3 linked regions of the Homo sapiens genome follow. Each later gene encodes a partner of the first gene's protein in a complex. Each region holds a gene or a part of one and is shown in the gene's direction. Other genes may lie near its edges.

Region 1 (7,827 bases):
AATAATATGTTTAGAACAATACACTCAACTGCAGAATACATATTATTTACATAGGCAAATGGCTTGTTTATCGACATATACCATATACTGGCCCATTAAAAATGTCAATACATTTTGAAAGATTGAAATCATATAGAGAATTTCTCTGACCACAATAGAATTTAATTAAACATATTCCTTCTTTAGAAAATATTTTAGTAAACAAAGAGTAGTAGATTTTTCCTCAAAAACAAGAGCCAAAAGAATTAAAAAGTCACTCTATTAGGGATTTTGCTGTAGGAACAAAGAATCTGGCAGGTAAAAAGTGACTGGACTTTGTGATTGTCAGATACAGAGTTAGAAGCACAAGAGTTTTGACAGATGCACTGCGTATTCAAAGTAATGGAAAATTTGAATAGTAGAGAAGTTTGGAAAAATGTCTAGACATGATACTTTAGCTACAGTATATAGAAAGTTGTTTGAGACGTCATACTTAAGCCACAGTTGTTTACCCCTGGAGAAATGAGAGTGTTAAAAAAGATATTAAAATCATTGATTTGTTAAGAAATTATAAGAATCTGAACTATCCTAAAAGTAATCTTTGTAAAATGAACGATAATTCCAGGTTATCTGGGATTTTCTGTAGGTTATCTAAAGGAGTAAATGGAAAAGAAATAAAAAAGATTTTATTTATCAAATAAATTTTTCAAAAAACAGAAATGAAGAGAATAGGAAAAAAGTACATACATACACAAACCTTTTTTTTTTTTTTTTTTTTTTTTTTGAGACAGAGTCTTGCTCTGTCTTCCAGGCTGGAGTGCAGTGGTACTATCCTGGCTCACTGCAGTCTCTACCTCTCTACCTCTTGGGCTCAAGCAATCCTCCCACCTCAGCCTCCAGGGACTACAGGCACATGCCACCATGCCTGGCTAATTTTTTTGTATGTTTTTGTAGAGATGGGGTTTCACCATGTTGCACAGACTGGTCTTGAACTCCTGAGCTCCAGCGATCCACCCTCTTGGGCCTCCCAAAGTGAGCCACCACGCCCAGCCTACTTTAATTCTTTGAACATATTTATAACAGCTGCTTTTTTAAGTCTTTGCTAAATATCTCTCTCAATTTCTTACTGTACTTTTCTTAAGAGCCATGCTTTCCTACTTCTTTACATGTCTAGTAATTTTTGGTGGAAAACTTGATATTTCAGATAATATATTGTAGCAACTATGTATTCTAATTTTTTGGAGAGTTGTTGGATTTGCTTTAATAACTTGGCTATGCAAATACTGATGTCTCTGCTTCATTTTTTATTCTTATATTTATTATTATTATTAAACTTGATTTCCAAAGAGTTACCCCTGTGTCTGCATATAATTTAGTGGTCAGGGCTGGGTGCGGTGGCTCACGCCTGTAATCCCAACACTTTGGGAGTCTGAGGCGGGCGGATCACCTGATGTCAGGAGTTTGTGACCAGCCTGGCCAGCATGTGACACCCTGTCTCTACTAAAAATACAAAAAAAAATTAGCCGGGTGTGGTGGCGGGCACTTGTAATCCCAGCTACTCAGGAGGCTGAGGCAGGAGAATCACTTGAACCCGGGAGGTGGAGGTTGCAGTGAGCGAGATCGTGCCACTGCATTCCATCCTGGGCAACGGAGCGAGACTCCCATCTCAAAATAATAATAATAATTTAGTGGTCACCTAATGATTTGAACAGAGGTTATGCTCAAACATCTTGATCGGGAAAAGCCTCACATTGATTTATATGTGAGTTGGGGAATGTAAATACAAAGTTGCTGCTAGTTTTCAAGTCATCCTTAGCTTTTACTTTTTGCCAGACTATTGGATCTTCCCCCTCCATTTGCATAGTAACCCAGTTAGCCAGGGATGGTAGAGAGCTTATTTCCGCCCTTTTATGGCTCTCTAGTTTCCATGATCTCCCTGTTAAATTTCTGGCTGTCTTTCATGACCAGTCAAAATTCTGGCTGGTTTTCGTGACCAACCCTGAACTAATAAAACCATTCTCATCGACCACGTTGGTGGTAGTAGTGGGTGTGTGAATAACCTCGTGCAAAGAGGCCACTGAGTCCCCCTGCCCTAACCTGAAGCTCTAGCACTTCTTCAACAATAAACGTTTCTTGTTTTCTACATTTGATCCATTTCCAGTACCCTGGAATGGTTGTTTTTCACAATCTCATTCAGGTTTGTACTTGTTTTTTGTGGAGAGGAATTACCAGCCTCTTCATGCCACCATAACTAGTAGTCCTTTTCTATGCTTATATTTGTTTACTCAGCTTCATTATTTACATCTTCTGTATCCATGTTTACTTTTCCCTTAAAGGATCTGTCAGAAACTGAGAGAGATTTTAGTCCTCTACAGTTGTGTTTTTATCAATTGATCCTTTTATTTTAAACAGTCTTGCATTGTGTATTTCTGTGTTCTATTAAAATGTTGTGTATTATACTTTTTGGTTAGTATAAAATGTATTACTTTGCCCAGTTTACAGCCATCAATGCTGTTGTTCTTAAATTTTTTACTCATGCTGGATGTTTGTTTGGATTTCTCTGATGTTATTTTAGGCTGGACTTAAATAATAGTGACACAGTTCATCTGTGTCATCAGTTCCAAGACTACTAGTTTTGGTGATTCACTAGAAAGACTCAGAATACTCAGCACATGTACTCATGGGTAAGATTTGTTACAGTGAAGGACACAAAACAAAATTGGCAAAAGAATAAGGTGCTTGGGGCAAAGTCCAGAGGAAACCACGTGCAAGTTTTCAAAAGTCCTCTCCCAATAGAGTCATGCAAGACTTTTAATTCTCCCAGAAACAAGTTGTCACAATGCTTATAAGTGTTGTCTACCAGGGAAGCTCATTAGAGACTCAGTGACCAGAGTTCTACTGGGGGCTGAGTATGTAGGCATCTTTTGCCTAGTACATACTAAAATTCCAGTCTTCCAGAGGGAAAGCAGGTGTCCAGCATTAACCACATCGTTTGCACAATCTAGACACAGTAAAACCACCATTATTAATTAGGGAACAGTGGGAACACTTCCGAAATCCAAGTTCCCAGATACCAGACAAAGGCCAACCTTGCAAGGAGGTTTTCCTAAGTATAGCAGCATCAGGCCTGCAGTATTAACTTCTTTAATTATTTTCTACACAACATCTTTGTCTTTTTTTTTAAATTGAACTACTCCTGGTGCTTCACTCATGAGTATAATGACCAAAGTTCTTTTGTTGTTTTTTTTGCAGTTAAATGATTTAAAATATTTTTCTCTTAATTTGGGAGTAATATAATTTTATTCAAATATGAAATTAGGGATCATCATTTATAGTTTTTGTTTTTGTTTCAAAAATTCTTTGTTGTTTCTCTAAGCCAAAAATAAAGTGTGTGCTTGTTTTGAAACTCTAATAGACAAAATACTGTACTATGATTTAAATTACATGCTTGGAACAGTTTTATATTTGACTATTCTTTGTATCTCCCACACATCATAATGCCTTTGTTCTTTTCTCAGCACGATTACGTGGTGTTCATGATGGTTTGTTCACTGGACAAATAGATGCTGTGGATACTCTTAATGCTACTTATAGAGTAACTTTTGATAGGACAGGGCTTGGAACCCATACCATCCCTGACTATGAAGTTCTCGTAAGTAGTATTTCATAATACATTTGTGTTTTATGCCTGTTAAATGTGTTATATAGAGTTTTTTTAGAAATCGTATTTTATGATAGAATCAAGACTTTATCTCACAGAGGAAGAGATCCTTAGGGGACCCCAGCCCTATCTGCTAGACCCCTGGTTCGGATCTATACTTAAGTCTTCCATTTGCCAGGAACTAGCATTTCTCTGTTGGACCTTAACGACACAGCACTTTAGTATAACCAAACTGATGAGTCCTGACTAAATAACCTTGGAGAAGAAGCTACATAACATTTTCATTGCAGCTGTTAGGTTAAAGTATAGTCCTCTTGCAAAATTGTTTTTAAAGTATAGTAACATCTTGTACTTATTTGTTCTCCTGTTTTATCTTCAGAGGCATGCAAGGTGGGTGTTAATTACCTTCACTTTTGCATGATGAAACTCAGACATAAGTACAATTGCGTAATTTATTCAAGGCTCTAGATCTGGTTTCCTATTAGGCTGAGACTAGAATTGAGATCTTTTTTTTTTTTTTTTTTTGAGACGGAGTCTTGCTCTGTCGCCCAGGCTGGAGTGCAGTGGTGTGATCTCGGCTCACTGCAACCTCTGCCTAGAATATACATACATACATACATACATACATATATACATAATATATATACACACACATATATATGTATGTCTTTGTAAATATATTTCCTAAAAGAAATATATATATATATATATATATATCTCCTTAGTGCAGAAATACAATATTGCTTGATATCTCTCCGCAATAGGAGAGAAAGAAAATTAGAACTAAATGTAGAACAGAGTACACTGCTCTTAAGTTTTTACATTAAAGGATGAAAGCTTTAAACTCTCCTTTCAAAAAAAGTAAATTGGCCAGGCGCGGTTGCTCACACCTATAATCCCAGCACTTTGGGAGGCTGAGATGGGCGGATCACCTGATGTCAGGAGTTCAAGACCAGCCTGGCCAACATGGTGAAACCCCATCTCTACTAAAAATACAAAAATTAGCTGGGTGGGGTAGCACATGTCTGTAATCCCAGCTACTTGGGAGGCTGAGGCAGGAGAATTGCTTGAACCCAGGAGGTGGAGGCTGCAGTGATCCGAGATCGCGCCATTGCACTCCAGTTTGGTCAACAAGAGTAAAACTCGGTCTCAAAAAAAAAAAAAAGTAAATTGCTTCTCTGTTTCATTAATTTAACTGTTTTTATGAGATCACCCAAATATTTCTCCCTGGCTAAATAAGAGTTGATTTTTAATTGTAGGGTATATTCAGACAGTCTAAATGCAGATAACCAAATGTGGCCATAGAAAACTTTAATATTAATCTTTGATTCTCTGAACTATTTTGACCCCCCCCCTTTTTTTTTATTTCTTTTTTTCTTCTGGAGGTTCATCCTTTTGGCAGCAAAGTAGTGTTTTCATACTCTGTTTCAAGTTCTAGCCTTTGATCTGTATAGACTAATATGCTACTCTATAAATAATTAAATATATAAGTAATAAATTCTATATGAATCATAGAATATGCGTGAATATATATCTCAAGCTGAAATACAATGATTATAAAGCTTAAATGATTGGTAAATTTCTTTAAGTTTTGTGAATTATTCTGTTTTCTCAGAGTAATGAACCTCATGAGACAATGCCAATTGCTGCCTTTGGACAAAAACAGCGGCCTTCTCGATTTTTTATGACCCCACCACGGTTACATTATACTCCTCCTCTCCAGTCACCAATTATAGTAAGTATATTTTAGAAATATCAATAATTTAATTGATTTTTATGAAGGTGAACTATGTTCTTAAGAAATACACATCTATTACAGCAACTTCAAAGTATGCACACTATTTTGAATTGAAAATATTAAATAAAATAAATAGTTGCTTCATCTCCAGAAATAATTTCCTTTTTATTGGATTTTAATATAATATTAATTATAACAGAATTTTCTCTTTTTCTAAAAATAAGATACTTCCTGGCCGGGCGCAGTGGCTCACGCCTGTAATCCCAGCACTTTGGGAGGCTGAGGCAGGCGGATCACGAGGTCAGGAGTTCGAGACCAACCTGATCAACATGGTGAAACGCCGTCTCTGCTAAAAATACAAAAATTAGCTGGGCGTGGTGGCGCGCGCCTGTAATCCCAGCTGCTCGGGAGGCTGAGGCAGGAGAATCGCTTGAACCCAGGAGTCAGAGATTGCAGTGAGCCGAGATCACAAGTGGCAACAGAGCGAGACTCCGTCTAAAAAAAAATAAAAATAAAAAAATAAGATACTTCCTCTGAATAGTCAATGATTAAATAATTCCTTTTTATTCCCATAGGATAATGATCCTTTATTAGGACAGTCGCCGTGGAGAAGTAAAATTTCTGGCTCTGACACTGAAACATTAGGTGGTTTTCCAGTAGAATTTCTTATCCAAGTGGTAAGAATTGTTCTGAATATCTTGGCTGTTTGTTTAAAAACTCAATGCCTTTTATGTTATTAAAGTTGAAAATTTTTCTAGGGCCGTGTAGGTTTATCACCGTGTAGGTTTTAAGAGCTGCTATTTCCAACAAAGCCTGAAAATAAAAGTTATAAAAACCAAAAAAGACTTAAAGATCTTTCTTCTTGAGCTTTGTCTTGTGTCTGAGTTCTTATTATTCTGCTATTTTAAGGGCTCAAACATTCTTGCATATGTTCTGTGAAATTCTGAATGTTTGGCTGTTAATAACTTGGGTAACTATGAAGGCTTTTATTTAGTAACCTCAGCATATTCTGCCATCATCAGTCAGTTCAACAGTTATGATGTCCTGGCTAGCTTATATGGTTAGAAGAAATTTTATTTCTTTTCAGAGACTAGAAACAGGTATTCACCTGCTAAGTACTTAGTGATTAGACACTAAGAAATCTAAGCCTAAACTGAACTAAGTGTAGAAGTATTATATTGGAAAATTTCCTTATAGCTGGACTCTTAAAAATGTAGTGAGTTTGAAAATTAGATTAAATAAATTTTTTAGTTTGAATCATAGTCTAATAATGTTTCATTTCCTTTTTGGAAAATGAAAACTACTTTGGCTTGGGATAGAAATGATCTTTATTTTCATTTGTTTATTTATTTATTCATTTTGAGACTGAGTCTTGCTCTGTTGCCCAGGCTGGAGTGCAGTGGGTCAGTCTGGGCTCACTGCAACCTCTACCTCCTGGATTCAAGCTTTTCTCCTGCTTCAGCCTCCTGAGTAGCTGGGATTACAGGCATGCACCACTATGCCCGGCTAATTTTTTTTGTAATTTTAATAGAGATGGGGTTTCACTGTGCTGGCCAGGCTGGTCTCCAGTTCCTAACTTCAAGTGATCCCCCCACCTTGGCCTCCCAAAGTGCTGGGATTAGAGGTGTGAGCTACTGCACCTGGCTGATATGATCTTTATAAATAAAAATGTTTATAACATAATCCATGAAAATATTCACAGTGTTCTTTTGCAGTTGATGTTATTTTGAGGAAAGGTCTTGTCAGTTGTGTGTCTGTATATAGCATTCTGTGTTCCTCAATCACATTTTTTTATTTAATATTTATTTATTTATTTGTTTATTTATTTTATTTGAGACAGAGTCTCACTCTGTCTCCCAGGCTGGAGTGCAGTGGCACGATCTCAGCTCACTGTAGCCTCTACCTCCCGGGTTCCAGTGGAATCACCTCAGCCTCCCAAGTTGCTGGGATTACAGGCGCACGCCACCACACCCAGCTAATTTTTTGTATTTTTAGTAGAGACGGGGTTTCACCATGTTGGCCAGGCTGGTCTCAAACTCCTGACCTCACATGATCGCCCTCGGCCTCCCAAAGTGCTGGAATTGCAGGCATGAGCGACTGCACCTGGCCTATTTATTTATTTATTTGTTTGTTTGAGACAAAGTCTTGCTCTGTTGTCCAGGCTGGAGTACAGGGGTGCCATTATGGCTCACTGCAGCCTTAACCTCCAGTCTCAGGCAGTCCTCCCACCTCAGCCTCCCAAGTAGCTGAGACTGCAGGCATGTACCACCACTCCCAGCTAATATATTTTTTATTGGTTTTGTAGAGATGGAGTCTCACTATGTTACCTAGGCTGGTCTTGAACTCCTGGGCTCAAATGTTCCTCCCACCTTGGCTTTCCAAAGTGCTAAGATTACAGGCTTGAGTCACCATGCCCAGCCAATGATATATTGTTAGTTATCCTTGCAAT
Region 2 (7,376 bases), on another chromosome or scaffold:
GGCACATGCCACCATGCCCAGCTAATTAAAAAAAATTTTTTTTTGTAGAGATGGGGCCTCCCTATCTTGCCAGGGCTGGTTTTGAACTCTTAGCCTCAAGCGATCCTCCTGCCTGGGCCACCCAAAGTGTTGGGATTACAGGCATGAGCCATCACACCCAGCCTACTCTTAAACTTTCTGAATCTAGTTTCCATCCCATAATCAGAGGGTCTTTCTGAAACATAAATCTGGTCAGATTATTCCCTTGTTTAAAATTCTTCTTTGGCTTTCCACTGCCCTTGGAATAAAGACTAATCCCCTTGATGTTGCTTAGAAAACGCTACATAGTATCTTTGCTTTTCTAGTTACATAACTGGCTACTTTCCTCCCTGTTCTCTATGCTCCTGCAATTTAACGTGTGTCTTGCTTTCTTTGCTCTTGCACATGCTGCTCTCTCTTGCCTGGCACTGTTTCATCTAATTTCCTTGGCTCATTCCTACTCCTTTAGGTCCCCACTCAGCCATCATCACTTTCTCTAGGAAGTCTCAACCTCAGGTCTATGGTAAGCAGCTGATTGTGAAGCTCATAAAGCACCCAAATTCCTTTATTTCTCATCTCACGCTATGAAATAATAGCTTGTCTAATGATTAACTTTCTCTCCTTTGAGGTCACTAGATTGTTGTGTCCCCAGCCCCTAGCACAATTCCTGGAAGAGAGTAAGTACTTAGTAAGCAATATTTTGCACAATGAAAGAATGAGTACTCGCCAAGCAATCATTTGATATTGTTTCAGTACTCTCAAGTTGGCAGACAATGCACTGATCAGCCAACTTGAGCATTCTAGGCCACTTAAATTTTATTTTTTCACTTGTATACAGCCTCCCTGCTGTTAAGAGGATGTAAAAAGCACTACATCTGGTATAATAGAACATATTCATATAGTTTTTTGACAGGTTCGATCTTCTATCTTTTCTTCATTTCCTAAGAAACACCCATTAGCATTGTTGCTGAAGAAACTATCCTGTGGCCAGTCACCCCAAACTGCTGCTCTCTAGATGTTTACTTCCTACTTGCTATATCCTTTATAAGGAACTCCTTCCTCTCCTGGTTCATGGCCTGCTAGTCCTGCAATACTTGGCTCTTTCCCTAGGTCCCCACAGTATCCCAGATACTCCTATTGTTTATCACTTATTGCAGTACAATAAAGGAGCTTTCAGTGAGCATTTTACTGTAAGCCTATGTCAGTGCCTAACATAGAAAGAGATGGCAAGACTTAAGTTCTGAATTTTCAGCCCCATCAGTTACTAGTTCGGTAACCATATCACCGACAGTGCAAGTCGCTACATCTCTTCAAGAGTAATTTTCTTGCCCAGGTGCAGCGGTTCGTGCCTGTAGTCCCAACACTTTGGGAGGCTGAGGTGGGAGGATAGCTTGAGTTTAAGAGTTCAAGACCAGCCTGGGCAACATGGTGAAACCCTGTCTCTACAAAAAATACAAAAATTAGCTGGCATGGGGGCACGATCTGTTGTTGCAGCTACTCGGAGGGCTGAGATGGAAGAATCACTTCAGCGTGGGAGGTCGAGGCTGCTGTGAGTTGTGATTGCACCACTGCACTCCAGCCTGGGTGACAGAGCGAGACCCTGTCTCGAACATTCCTTTATCTCTGCATGGGAGTGATAATATCACAAGGAGCAGAGAGAGGTTTTAGGTTAAGTTTGACTACTCTTCGTGGCAGAGAAAAATAAGCTGAATACTTAAAATAATTGAAAACATTAACTTTCTCCTCTATAAATCCTTTTGATAGTTCTCTAATATTCATGGCTGCCAAAATCGAGGTTTTTTTTTTTTTTTTTTTTTTTTTTGATGGAGTCTTGCTCTGTCGCCCAGGCTGGAGTGCAATGGCACGATCTCAGCTCACTGCAACCTCCGTCTTCCGGGTTCAAGCGATTCTCCTGCCTCAACTTCCTGAGTAGCTGGGATTACAGTCGCCCGCCACCACACCCGGCTAATTTTTGTATTTTTAGTAGAGAAGGGGTTTTACCATGTTGGTCAGGCTGGTCTCGAACTCCTGACCTCAGGTGATCCACCCACCTTGGCCTCCCAAAGTGCAGGGATTACAGGCAGGAGCTACAGCGCCTGGCCCGTAGGCTACTTTTTATCGAACTTTTAATCAAAGATTCACGTTACAACTCCTAGTTGGCTGAGGATTACTCTATCTGTTCTTTTCCAGGTCACTTCAGAAGTTTCTCCAAATGAATCAGAAAATACATAGTGTCTGTTTCTGAAATAAAAGTACATGGAAAGAGAGATTCTTCTCCTTGATGGAAAAGGACAAAATACTTTCTTAAGGTTCTCAATGACTCATTGTGATGGGAGGGGAAGAGGAGGCAAAGGAAAAAAGCCAATTTCAGTAAAAGATTTCAAGAAGTTGGTAAGAAAAATATAGGGTGGAAACTTTGTTTTCCTGCTACTAAAAAAAGATACTAGAACAGAACAAGGATCGCAGCAAGAAATATGAGTGAGGCCAGACCATCTGCCAAACCCTTCAAACTCATCCTTTCTACCTTCCCCATTAAATAGCATATTTAAAAATGAATCTTTGCTGACTCTGCCAAGAATCTTAAAACTGCCCAAGTTTCTTTACTAGAACTCACGGAAACCTGGTGAATACTAATATTACCTAAAAGCTCAGCAATATAGAGGAAATTCTCAGACTGGATGTAATGAATAAGAACGGCACTGTTGTTTCTTGCAGACTGTTTCTTGCCTGCGGTAAATCTTGCCACATACTCTAAATCCTTGGTAGGCCATGAACAGGGGAAAGACTATAAACAGAGTTGGAGATTACAGGCCTCAGGCATGCAACTCCTGTAGCTTTACCATTTCTCCTTAGGTTGGCTTCAGAGAGGACTCAATCCCCCAAGTGCAGAGATGAGGGTGTGTAGCACTAGAAGAGCTGATTTTGGGGTGGGAACTTAGACTTCTTGTCTTACCTGGCTCCCACTTTCTATCACCCGTTTTAAAGATGTTTGGTACCTTGAACATACATGGAACATACTGGTAGCTTTAACTGTGTGCCCTTATCTACCCTATCTATGTAGATGTGCCCTATCTATGTAAACTGTAACTTAGCTGAGAAAAAGTTTAACTCAAAGTTTTGGCAAGAAAGGGGACAGCCAGTCCATGGAAAATACAAAGAGCCACACTTAGGGAAAATAGCTTAGCAAATGGCTGCCTTTGGTGAAAATCTAGAGTCCACCTCTAGAAGGAAATTCAAAGTTCATACACTGACCCTCGCCCCTCGCGTCCCCCCTCCCCCTTACCTCAGATCACCACGGATAGTGAAGTAGGGTGGGGGAAGGGAGCAATGGCAAAGTGGACGCTCACGGCAGGGGACAGAGTAACCAAAAAGAGTAGTTTCTGGGGGAGAGAGAGAAGGCTGGTGCAGAGGTAAAAAGGAAAGACGGTGGGCGGATGGAGAGATGAGGGCAAGAGAGTGACAGCAGGGAGCGGGCAGAGCTGGAGAAGGAGAGTGGGCGAGAGCCAGAAAAGAGGAGGCTTAGGAGTAAAAGGGTAGAGGGCCAAGGGTAACAGCCCAGGGTTGGATCCGGGACCAGGGAGGTTATGAAGTGAGGGCTGGGCATGGGACAGGGCCGCACAGGTCGGGTAGGAGGTCTGGCCAAAAAGGGGTTGGGCCAAGAAGGTGGTCCCGCCCGAGGATGGCTCAGGGAGCGGACGGAAAGGATCCAATTCCTAGCTTCATGGTGCCTTGGCACCACCCTCACTCGCCTGCAGGATCCGGGCTCGCACTGCCGCCGCCGCCAATAGCGCCGCCATGGCTCTCGGCCGCCCTAGCTCCGCACCCCGCGCCTCTACTGCCCAGAAGCACTACAGCTGCCAGGCCTCGCCCTCCATCCTGCCAGGCTTCCTCATTGGTGGGGAGGACTATTTTCTCCAGCCAATCACTGGTCCGAACACCTGATTCCTCTCCTCACACCCCCGTCCTGGGGATAAGTGATTGGTTAGGAGCGAAAATGCTCTCGCCCTCTGCCACCTCAGCCAATGACGTAGGCGGAGGTAGAGAAGACGCCCCTGACTTGGACACTCCCTACCGAGCACACGGGGAAGACGCCCCCCTAACCTGGAACTCCGATTGGCCAAGGGCGGAACCGAGGCCCCACCCCCCCACTGAAAAAAGTAAATAAGACCCTTCAAGAATTTTGCAGTCGCTCCACCTCAACATCCGCGTAAGGGGCGTGGCTATACTTAGGGGCGGGGCTAGGCAAAGATTGCCCTATGAGGCGAGGGAATGAGACTGGGCTGCGAGTTGGGGATAGGGTTTCTCTTTGGGGGCGTGGCTTATGGAACCTCGTTTTCCCGCCGACGGTTGGCCACGTCACGTGACATGGGTTGGAAGATGGCGTCTCCCACAGACGGTAAGAGCCGGCTTAGAGATCTTTGCCTGCAGCCTCCTTCTTTGCTCTACTGGGAACATCCACTCTGTCTCTGCCCCTCGAACATACATTTCTTTCTTGGGCTCTTCTCCTTTCCCTTTTATTTTTTTTCTTGAGATCCATCGCCGTCTTCAGCTCACCGGTTCTTCACAGCAGCTCCGGAGGTGCCCAGTTTCCCCGCTCTGTACCAGGCGTGTGGAGGAGGGCACTAGGGAGGGACTCATTCTGGGTAAAAGGACAGGGGGGTCGCCCTGTGCCTTCCTTATCTCTATTTGGGCGAGGCTGAGGGTCGAGGAGGAGATGTTTCTGGAGGACGTGGCTTACTGTAGTTTTTTCCTTGGGGTACCCATTGAAAGGATCAGTTCTCTTCTGATTGAGCGCACGGATGGAATGATTCTCACAAACCCTCGCAGGGCTGCTGGCTGACCTCATCTCGATACTGAACCGCAAGAGAAACATGATCTCTCTCCTGTCTCCTCAGTTTGGGACCATTGCCGTGGCAGCAAGAGAAGCGGGGGACGTTCTCGGCCCCTCGCCCTGAGAGTCGCGAGGAGAATCAGTATTGAGCTTTTAAGTGTCGTCTTGCACAGGTCGCAACCTGTCTTCCATCTGCTTTACGTGTTGTTTCTTAAGGCTGAGTGAATTAACGATTTCTGTTTATATATTGTGTAAAATGCAAGTCATTTCAAGTAACAATTAAGTTGTTTTGGTATACTCCCATGCTTTTCCTCTTGGTTCTGCTTTAGAGAGTTAGGGTCTTGCAGTCATTTTTAAACTCATTTTTAGTTCTACCATCCTCATCCCAACTATATATCGATTTTATTGATATATAGGTTTCCTTCCCTTAGACAAAAACATTTTATATTTGGAAGGAATCTTGGAAGTTCATTGCAGGAATGAAGAAATTGAAGCCAAGGTGAGCTATATTAAGTACCTGCTACATGAAAGGCATAATGCTAGGTGCTTTGGGAGACCAAAAGATGACTCAAACATATAAACATTTTTTTTTTTCAGTTTCAGTTCTCTTTTTAGATGTCACCTCCCAAAGAGTCTTTCTTAGAACACAGTATCTGGAGTTGCCCTTTCCCACCATTATTCATTATCTCAGTATCTTCCTTGTCAGCATAGTTACTCTGTTAACTTTGCCCCTTTTGCGCTAGATTGTAAATTCCAAGTTTGTCTTGTTCATAGTTGGATCCAGGTTTAGCACAGTGCCTGACGAACAGTAGGTCTTTAATTAACATTTATTGAAAGATTGATTAGATATATGCAGAAATAATATATTACTTGATCTTAAGTTTTAAGTTTAACCGAGTCTTAAATTTTGTGAGCGCAGGTACATACTGTATTAGAAATTATGGCTGGGCGTGGTGGTTCACACTTCTAATCCCAGCACTTTGGGAGGCTGAGGCAGGCAGATCGCCTGAGCTCAGGAATTGAAGACCAGCCTAGACAACATGGTGAAACCCCATCTCTACAAAAAAATACAAAAATTATCTGGGTGTGATGCCACAAACCTGTAGTCCCAGCTACTTGGGGGGGCTGAGGCAAGAGAATCTCTTGAGCCCAGGGGGTGGAGGCGGCAGTGAACCATGTTCATGCCACTGCACTCCAGTCTGTGTGACAAAGCGAGACCCCGTCTCAGAAAAAAAAGAAGGAAAAAAAAAGAAATTATGGATGTTTGGAGTCAAAAGAGATTCTCCTGCCTGGGTGCGCTCTTGCAAAAATGTCCTTCTCTTGCCAGAAAGAAGGGCATTTAAAAAGTCAGGCAAGGGAATAGGGAGTTATTGTTAATGGGTACCAAATTTCAGTTTGGGAAGGTGAAAGAATTCTGGAAATGAATGTGATGATTGCACAATTAATGTACTTAATACCACTGAAATGTATACTTAAAAGTTATTAAAATGGTAAAATTTATGTATATTTCACCACAGTTGAAAAAAAAAGCCAAGTAATACAAGTAGAAGTAATTGTTATTAAACTTTTTAGTTTATTTTTAAATTGTTTTTACAAACTTTGGGGATTTTAGAGATGTGTTCCTTGAGTTTGATTTTTTTCCCCTGTCATCTCTCAATTTAGTTTCCTTTCTTTGGCCAGGAAGAGTATTAAAAACATTAAATTTGGCTTGGCGTGGTGGCTCACGCCTGTAATCCCAGCACTTTGGGAGGGCGAGATGGGTGGATCACGAGGTCAGGAGATCGAGACCATCCTGGCTAACACAGTGAAACCCTGTCTCTACTAAAAAATACAAAAAATTAGCCAGGCGTGGTGGTGGGTGCCTGTAGTCCCAGCTACTCAGGAGGCTGAGGCAGGAGAATGGCGTGAACCCGGGAGGCAGAGCTTGCAGTGAGCCGAGATCACGCCACTGCACTCCAGCCTGGGACAGAGCGAGACTCCATTGCAAAAAAAAAAAAAAAAAAAAAAATTAAATTTTTTTCCTTTTCTAGCCATCTCTATGGTCACTTTATTTGCACTCTTGATTTTTAAGTTTTCATTCTCATCTCTTACAAAGTTTCACTCCTCTCCACCTAATGTTTTCTTTTTAATCTGAAAAAATCAAGTCAAGCACTTTGAACTTAAATTCAGCTTCTAAATAAGTATCTCATTCCAAAATATTCCACGGCCTAGCTCTTTCACTTCTATTTTTAGTGTTCCACCTGTCACTGTCTTTAAAATTTAATTCAGATAATATTTATTTTAATATGTTTGTCATTTACTCTTTTGTCTTTTTCGTGATAAATTTGCTGGAGCGTCTTTGAAAAGGAGAAAACTGAAATTCAAATACAGCCATCTAATTACTTAATTTATGAGAGTAAGACTCACAGCAGAGTCTGAGTTCTATCCCAGACTGTGGTATCATAAGGTCACCCATGTAGGTTATTAGATTGTACCCCCAATAATTTTTTTTTAACTTTCTTTTAGAGACAGGGTCTCTCTCACTCTA
Region 3 (7,932 bases), on another chromosome or scaffold:
GAGACTGCTTTTGAGAGCAAAATTAATCTCTGTAGTACTAATGTGTAGCATGAGTAGGTGTTCAAGAACTGTTCGTTAAATTGAATTAAATAATATTAATAAGATATAAATAAGATTAATAAGCATTTCTTTTATAAGAATAGGGATTCTCAATCTTTATTATAGCACCAGGTGCTATGTGCTCTGTGCAGAAATTTTATATTATACCACTACCTCCCTCTTATGGTAATTTACATGAATATGTACAAGTGAACCAACTTTGCACTAATTTGTTTACTGTGATATTTATCAGTAATTCACTAAAGAGGAACAGCAGAGTATCACTAGCTTTTCAGTATTTGAGTCCAGTATTGCAGCTCTTAAAAGTAGGTTTTTCTAAAACTAAAAATCAGAATGTTGAGATTGTCATTTTCAAAGATTTATCCTTTTACCAAATAAGAAAAAGCCAGCCATTCACAAAGCAGAAAGGGGTCACCATTAGCTATGAATGCTTTCTATGTCTCTGGAGCTTCACATCCAACACAACTATAGCTGTGAGAGAAGGGTGCTGATCCCTTCCTCCCTTCCTCCTTCCCTCTTTCCTTATCTCTCTTTCTTTTTTTCTTGTTGTATCTGACAATGGTTACTTTCTTTTTTTCGAGATGGAGTCTCATTCTGCCGCCCAGGCTGGAGTACAGTGGTGCAATCTTGGCTCACTGCAACTTCTGCCTCCCAGGCTCAAGCTATTCTCCTGCCTCAGCCTCCTGAGTAGCTGGGACTACAGGCACACGCCACCACGCCCAGCTAATTTTTTTATTTTTAGTAGAGACAGGGTTTCACCATGTTGGCCAGGATGGTCTCGATCTCCTGACCTCAGGTGATCCATCTGCCTCAGCCTCCCAAAGTGCTGGGATTATAGGCGTGAGCCACCGCACCTGTCCGATGGTTATTTTCAATCCCAAGACGTACACTTTATCCAGTAAAAATTGGGCTGAAGAATTTAGGAATTCTAAAATAAAAATTTGAATTGGAAAAATAAAAATTTACTTCATGAAGATTAATATATAATAAGGAGAGTGACAGGGGTTGTGAGTGCCCCTTCATTCATGACACTCTAGCTGTCAGGTCTGGGATTTGATTTTACCCTACTTATAAGCTAAGTTAAACTGTTACTGGCTCATGGATCCTTTTACCAGAAGACACAAGACTCTAAGGTTGGGGACAAAGTGTTGGTATTACTTACAGCACAGCAAACACCTTGAGCATCAACATATTTGTGCCAGTTATTCTTGCTTTCAGGTCCCATGGGGCAATGTAATGGTACCAGATGGATGTCATGCATAGAGTGGATTTGTGCTACAGTTGAGAAACACTCAACTTGGGAATCCACTGCTTTTATAGTAAGCAGTAAGTAAACCTAGTTTTTGTCTTGGACTGAGATGTTACCTCATCTCTCAAGGCAACTAGCTGCAAATAACCCTTAGAAATGGCCTGTGTAAAAGAGTACTCAGGGCCTTGCAATCTAGGCACACCCAGCAAGATGTATATAGGAGTGCAAGAAGCCCAAGGAAGATTGTTTTAGTAACCACACCAGCATCTCTAAAGAATGGCCCTAGTTAGGCATAGATGGCTCATGCCTATAATCCCAGCACTTGAGGACGGTGAAGCAGCAGGACTGCTTGAGCCCAGGAGTTCAAGGTTACAGTGAGCTATCATCACACCACTGCAATCCAGCCTGGGCTACACAGCTAGACCCCATCTCTAAAAACGTTACGAAAAGGCCAGGGTCAGTGACTCATGCCTGTAATCCCAGCACTTTGGGAGGCTGAGATGGACGGATCACCTGAGGTCAGGAGCTTGAGACCAGCCTGGCCAACAGGGCAAAACCCCGTCTCTACTAAAAATACAAAAATTAGGCCAGGCATGGTGGCTCATGCCTGTAATCCCAGCACTTCGGGAGGCCGAGGCGGGAGGATCACCTGAGGTCAGGAGTTCCAGACCAGGCTGGTCAACATGGTGAGACCCCATCTCTACTAAAAATACAAAAAATTAGCCTGGGGTGGCAGGATAATTTCTTGAACCCGGGAGGTAGAGGTTGCAGTGAGCCAAGATCATGCCACTGGACTCCAGCCTGGGTGACAGAGTGAGACTCTGTCTCAAAAAACAAAAACCACAAAAATTAGCCGGGCATGGTGACACATGCCTGTAATCCCAGCTGCTTGGGAGGCTGAGGCACAAGAATTGCTTGAACATGGGAGGTGGAGGTTGCAGTGAGTGGTGATCGCGCCAATGCACTCCAGCCTGGGTGACAGAGTGACTGTCTAAAAAAAAAAAAAAAAAAAAAAAAAAAGACCTACTATTTGACAGCACAAGTTGACTAGAGTCAATAACTTGATTGTAGATTTTAAAATAACTAAAATTTATAATAACTAAAAGTAACACAAAGGATAAATACTCAAGGGGATGGATACCCCATCTCCATGATGTGATTATTTCACATTGCATGCCTGTATCAAAACATCTCATGTACCCCACAAATATATACACCTACTATGTACCCACAAAAATTAAAAAACAAACAAAACAAAGCCACTATAAATGTTTTGCAAAATGGCTGAATTCTGCATGCCTAACAGCAATGTATGCAAGTTGTACTTGCTCAGCATTTTCATCTTCACCAACATTTGTATAGTCAGTCATTTTCCCCGCTCATTCTAACAGAAGTGTAGTCTAGTATCTCATTGTGGTTTAATTTGCATTTCTCTAATGACTAATGAGGTGGAACATCATTTAATATGCCTGTCGTGTGTGTGTGTGTGTGTGTGTGTGTGTGTGTGTGTGTGTATGTATATATATATCTCGTTTGGTGAAATCTGTTTAAATCTTTTGCCCATTTTTTAAATGCTTTTTTTCTCACTGAGTTTTGAGAGTTCTTTATATACTCTGAATAAAATCTCTAAACGTTTGCTTAAAAAAAAACTCATCTTAGTTTAGAATACATCTGAGTATGTGTATTCAAATGACTGTGAACCACTTTAATTCCACACTTTGCCCTGAGTTTTATAACTGATTTCAGTAATTTCACAATGTTATCTTTCTGGGAATTGCTTTTCTCTATATGTAAAAATGAGGGAAATTTGTTTTACTGTCAAAATCTAAAACATTTGTCTTCAAGCTCTAAAAAAGGTATTCTGTATAAAACTGAATACAGCCTAAAATATAGCAGAAGCTCTGCTTCCTGTTAGATATAAATAAGTGAAGTAATGTACGACCCAGGGGTAAATAAGAAAACAGTGAAACAGTGATTCCAAATGACATTGGGAACATAATGAAATTTGGGAACTCATTTCTAAATTATTTTTTATTTTTTTATTTTTACTGAACCAGCAACCCAGTAAGGAATGATCTGGAAGAAACGCTTGGCCAGGTGTTGTGGCGCGCGCCTGTAGTCCCAGCTACTTTGGAGGCTGAGGCAAGAGGATCGCTGTTCGAGGCTACTGTAAGCTATGATTGTGCCACTGCACTCCAGCATGGGGAATAGAGTGAGACCTAGTCTCAAAAAAAAAACAACAAAAAAAAAAACAGGAGAGAAAAAGAAAAGCTGTTTTATCTTCCCTTACCTTCCCAGAATCTATACCTTGAAAAAAGGAACTGTTAAAAAAAAAAAAGCCAGTGTGTTTAGGTTTTGACAGCAGTGCATGCAAGCTTCTCTCTTAATTCAGCTCCTCTTAATTCACTCTGCACCTGCATCTGATTTGCAAAAGATGAAGCGTAAAATTTCAAAATAGCAAGTGTTTGTTACAGTGTTAACATGTGGCTCAGTGCTCTATGCAATAGACCATGTTGCCTTGCAAATTTTCCTTAGCCAAGTGTAATTGTTACTGTAGCAAATCTACTTTAATGCTACTTGAAATGAACAGTTCGTAGTTATTAGACTGGAACCTCAAGTAGCTGCAACCGCTAGAAACTCCTCCGGTGGTTCCCCCCTCCCTGGTCTCTCCAGAGGGAAGAAGGTCACCTTCTACACTTAACTACCATGCTCATTCATCTGGACGAAATGCCCAGTCCACTGTCTTCTTCACGCGTTATTCTCCAGGACAGGGCTCCTCCGCCGCGCACGTTATTTCCTGTAGAGCGGGCACGAAATTAAGCACCTTGAAGACCAGCGGTAGACACAGATTATCTCCGGTTCCAAGCACGTCTCCCGCTAGGAACTTTTTTCACTTGTCACTCTTCTGCTGCTTTTTGAGGAAAACAGGTGATATTTGGTTTCCTGCCAGAGTCTTCGTCACTCTCGTAACTATGATGTCTGGGTAAAAATAGCTCACATTTTTGCTTAAAAAATAACGGCCGCGCAAATTTATGGTTAGATTTGTCTCAAGTCTGAAGACCGCGCATCCTAACTAGTGAGGCGGAAGACACCTAAGGAGCCAGGAGCTGTCGCCGAGGCGAGGCTGCGGAGACGTTCCCTTGGTGGGCCGCGGGACCACCCACCCCGCCAGAAACTCGGTTCGCTCACCCTAAGAATTTTGGGGCAACTGGACTTCTCCACCGCCCGCTTCCGGACCCGCTCCGGCGCCGCTTCCGGACCCACTCCTCGGCGAGCGCAGGAACTCGCTCTCCCAGCAGGCCCCGCGCGGTGCGCCTCTCGGCGCGTTCCGGGTCCTATGACAGCTCGGCTCGCATGCGCCACCTACGGCCCCACCCGCGGCCCCACCCCCTGGCTCCCGGCTCCTTCCCCGACTCCCGCGAGTTCCAGTCCCAGCTTCCAGCTCCCCAGCCCCGCCCTCAGCCGCGCGCGCTCTCCCCTCCCCGCCCTCGCTTCTTCGCGTGCGGCCCCCACAGCCAATGAGGTTCAGGGCCGCGTGCGCAGATTCAAACGGCGGCTCTTGAGGGAGGCTGGGCGCGAGATTCGGCGGTGCGGACAAAACCCTGCAGGAGACTGCGAGCCCTGCAGAACTGCTAGCTGCGGGGGAGAGGGCAGGGGTCGGGCGCCTGTGGCGGAGCCGGGCTGGGGCCAGGGCAGGGAGGCTGACAAGCGGCGGGAGAAGCCGGCGGAGGGCGGGATCGCGCCTCCTGACATGTTGGGGGTATCCCTGGCCGGGCCGGGCCGGGGCTAAGAGCGGCGCTGCGGGCCGGGGTCGGGGTCGGGTCGCGGTCCGCCCCCGCTGTCCCTCCGTCCTGCCCTGTCGAGGACGTGCGTTCCGCACTCGGCCGCCTCCAGAGGGAGCGAGGGAAGCGGCTAGAGGATCGGGGAGAAGGAGCATTCGCCGGAGGCTGGAGGAGGCTGACCCGCGTCCCCGCCCAGCCTGCTCCTATGCGGTACTTGAAGGATGGCGAAGAGGTCGCGCAGGTGGGTGGCACCCCTTTCGCCCAGGCCTGTCGGCGCCGTCTCGGCTCAGATTCTCTTTCCTATCCCGCTGCCCCCTCCCGCCATAAGGCCCTCCCTGGCGAGGGCAGAGGTTTTTCTTCCCGCGTCCCCGCGGCCGCTTGGCCTCGATGACCGGAGGGCAGCTGCGACGTGTGGAGAGTTGGGGACCAGGGTGTTTGAGGCGCGGGACGTAAGAGATGCCCAGGTTTCTCGGTGACTCTCCCCGTAATGCGCGTCCAGATTTCTGACCTCATGCTGCCACTTCTTCGAGGCAGGTTTCTTGCCAGGTAAGTCGAGCGCTTTTAGGGAGTCCGCTACGCAGAGAAAACTGACTGTGTCCTGCCGGGAGGACTTGAAAATGGTGTTCGGGCGACTCTTTTCTGAATGACGGTACAGTCAAAATAGGAACTCCGCGGTGAACCTGGGCGGCCACCCCTCTGCCAACTTGGCTATCTTGAAACGTTGTGGAAAATCCTCTGGGGAATAGCTGAGAGGACTTTTTTGATGTTTTCTGTAATTCCTATACCCATATGCTCAGCTTTATGTATATATGTATATTTTAATATCCTCTCTTGGGACCATGTCACATAGTAACAACTAGTAGTAACAACTAGTAGCTTGATCTTGAAATAAAACAATGTGTTTGATTCACTTAATATTTTGAGTGTCTGTGTTTGGCTCTGACCGTACCTAAGTGTTCCACAGAGGTAAGGCACTTTTTTCCACCTTTGCCTGGAAAATGTGCTAGGATGAATTTATGCATCTAATTTTCGTTTACATGCCATTACAGCAGCTACTCATAAATTATGTGGAGTAATTGCTTAGATAACAAAAATATAGGATGTCTTCCGATTTTCAGCATTATCAAATAAACCTGAAAAGATGTTTGGCAGGATTTCCAAATATTTATTTATCTAGATCCACAGCCCCAAAATCTTAACTAGAGATGTATTTCCTAAGTTGAAATTTAGTAATGGGGGTCATTCATTGCAGAGTTCTGCTAAAAATTGGCAGTAACTATACATAATTGTTTTTTCCTTAGTTTTCTGTTAAGCATCTGCTGTGTGCAGGATGCTTCTGCAGAAATCCTTAAGTCTCTGTAAGCTTATTAGTTTTGAAGTAAGTTATAGGACAAACTCTTGAGATGAAATAAATGTGTACACAGACCCCTCTAAAACTGTTTTCAGCCTTTGCACTATTGACATCTTGGACCAGATAATTCTTTGTAATGGGGAGATGTTTAGCAGCATCGCTGGCTTCTACCCAGTAGAGATAGTAACACTCCACTTCCCTCAGTCATGACAGTAAAAATGTCTCCAGACATTGCCAAATATCTTTTGGGGGACAAAATCACCCAGGAAAGAACCACCCTTCTAGAACTTCAAGGACCCAATTAACATCAATCTTCAGAAAAGATAGATATTTAAAGCTCTTGTAATTATGATTGCCGAAGTACTGGTTTAGGCTTTTTGAATTTTTAAATATAAAAAAATTTAAAAATAAGATGACAATTGAATATGTTAACTCAATAACAAGTTTATTAATGTGTGATATTATCTACTTATCAGTATTGATGTTAATCTTATTTGAAACAGTTTCTTGGCTAATTCTGTCATCAGCATTTAGTTAAATTAAAATTATGGCTAGACACGAATGTTTAAATGTCAGAACCTTCCCCTCCCCATGGGTTTTCTGTCCATTTCATATGTGTGAAGTGTATGTTTCATAATAATGGACAAAGAAAGGAGAAACAACTTAATGTTAGTTTGCATATATAAGTTGTTTTATTGAGAATACTGTGAGCTTGAAATCTAAATATTGTACTTTTGACATTTATCCCTTGACAGTTGTGTAAGTTAATTTAAACATGATAGAATGATTTAAAGGGTCGTAAATCTGGAGTAATTAAATGTGGTGGGGTGAAGCTATACTCTCCCTGGGAGTATACAGATAGAGGATGTGGGGAGAAATTATCATCTCTGAATGATGTATCTCTTAAGTCTTCATACTTAAATGTGTTTCATACTCTGAATTACATTTCTTGCCCACGTAAATATGATTTACATATCTTAGAAGATAGTAGATGCTCTGCTTTTGTGCTTCAACAAAAAACAAAAGAGGATAGAGTGTGAATTGTTTTGAAGCAAAAATAATGTCATTGGGAAAAATCTCTCTTGCCTTTTACCTAAGTATCTTAATATATTTGAACTCAATTTATAGTTGAAAGGGAAAAGAAATAATTCAGTTACTTCAAGTTGTAATTTGAGATCTCCAGTATACAACCACTTAAGCGTTCAAGTGAAAACTATACTTTGCTGTATAAAAGTTTTGCCTAAGAGCATAGGCGTAAATCCTGTAATATATGTTTCCTATGTGAACTGAAAAAAAAAAACCCAAAAAAACCTAAGAGTAGAAAACTAAGTGTTACCTCAAGTGTGAACAACTGCAGGATGTTAGCTGTTTTGATCTTTAAGATAGCCGTAGTATCTGTCCTCTAGATTTACATAAAGGAAGACTCATTTGTATTGTGACTTTAAATAATTTTACATCCCACTGGGAATTGCGATGACAATTTACAGGCA

The links. The genes of interacting proteins can lie anywhere in the genome.
Region 2: the proteins of LIN9 (region 1) and LIN52 are in contact, whole or in part, in a crystal structure (PDB 6C48), measured with the Homo sapiens proteins. Residues at the interface, in NP_001353174.1 of Homo sapiens: Leu335 (codon at 6,020), Gly336 (codon at 6,023), Phe338 (codon at 6,029), Phe342 (codon at 6,041), Leu343 (codon at 6,044), Ile344 (codon at 6,047), Val346 (codon at 6,053), Thr347, Leu349, Ser350, Lys351, Leu353, Met354, Lys356, Lys357, Ile360, Leu363, Arg364, Asn367, Thr368, Ala370, Glu371, Lys374, Ile382, Phe384, Gln385, Tyr388, Ala389, Val392, Leu395; in NP_001019845.2 of Homo sapiens: Asp61, Met64, Leu65, Leu68, Gly69, Leu71, Thr72, Thr73, Leu76, Met77, Val80, Leu83, Gln84, Leu86, Ala87, Leu90, Asp93, Glu94, Glu97, Met98, Arg100, Gly101, Leu104, Asn105, Ile106, Leu107, Glu108, Pro110.
Region 3: LIN9 (region 1) and MYBL1 share a complex: the UniProt entries of both Homo sapiens proteins name them as parts of the DREAM complex.

The regions. Positions count from the first base shown.
Region 1 is NC_000001.11:226,263,761-226,271,587, reverse strand, and holds part of LIN9 (protein lin-9 homolog), read left to right. Parts: intron 1-3,497; coding exon 3,498-3,631; intron 3,632-5,255; coding exon 5,256-5,375; intron 5,376-5,953; coding exon 5,954-6,055; intron 6,056-7,827. UniProt on the Homo sapiens protein: Acts as a tumor suppressor. Inhibits DNA synthesis. Its ability to inhibit oncogenic transformation is mediated through its association with RB1. Plays a role in the expression of genes required for the G1/S transition.
Region 2 is NC_000014.9:74,080,580-74,087,955, forward strand, and holds the start of LIN52 (protein lin-52 homolog), read left to right. Parts: upstream 1-4,376; 5' UTR 4,377-4,383; coding exon of another isoform or gene 4,384-4,395; coding exon 4,396-4,414; intron 4,415-7,376. Other genes in the region: ALDH6A1 (methylmalonate-semialdehyde/malonate-semialdehyde dehydrogenase [acylating], mitochondrial isoform 1 precursor), read right to left, coding at 3,768-3,815.
Region 3 is NC_000008.11:66,610,219-66,618,150, reverse strand, and holds the start of MYBL1 (myb-related protein A), read left to right. Parts: upstream 1-4,932; 5' UTR 4,933-5,312; coding exon 5,313-5,332; intron 5,333-5,357; exon of another isoform or gene 5,358-5,578; coding exon of another isoform or gene 5,579-5,637; intron 5,638-7,932. UniProt on the Homo sapiens protein: Transcription factor that specifically recognizes the sequence 5'-YAAC[GT]G-3'.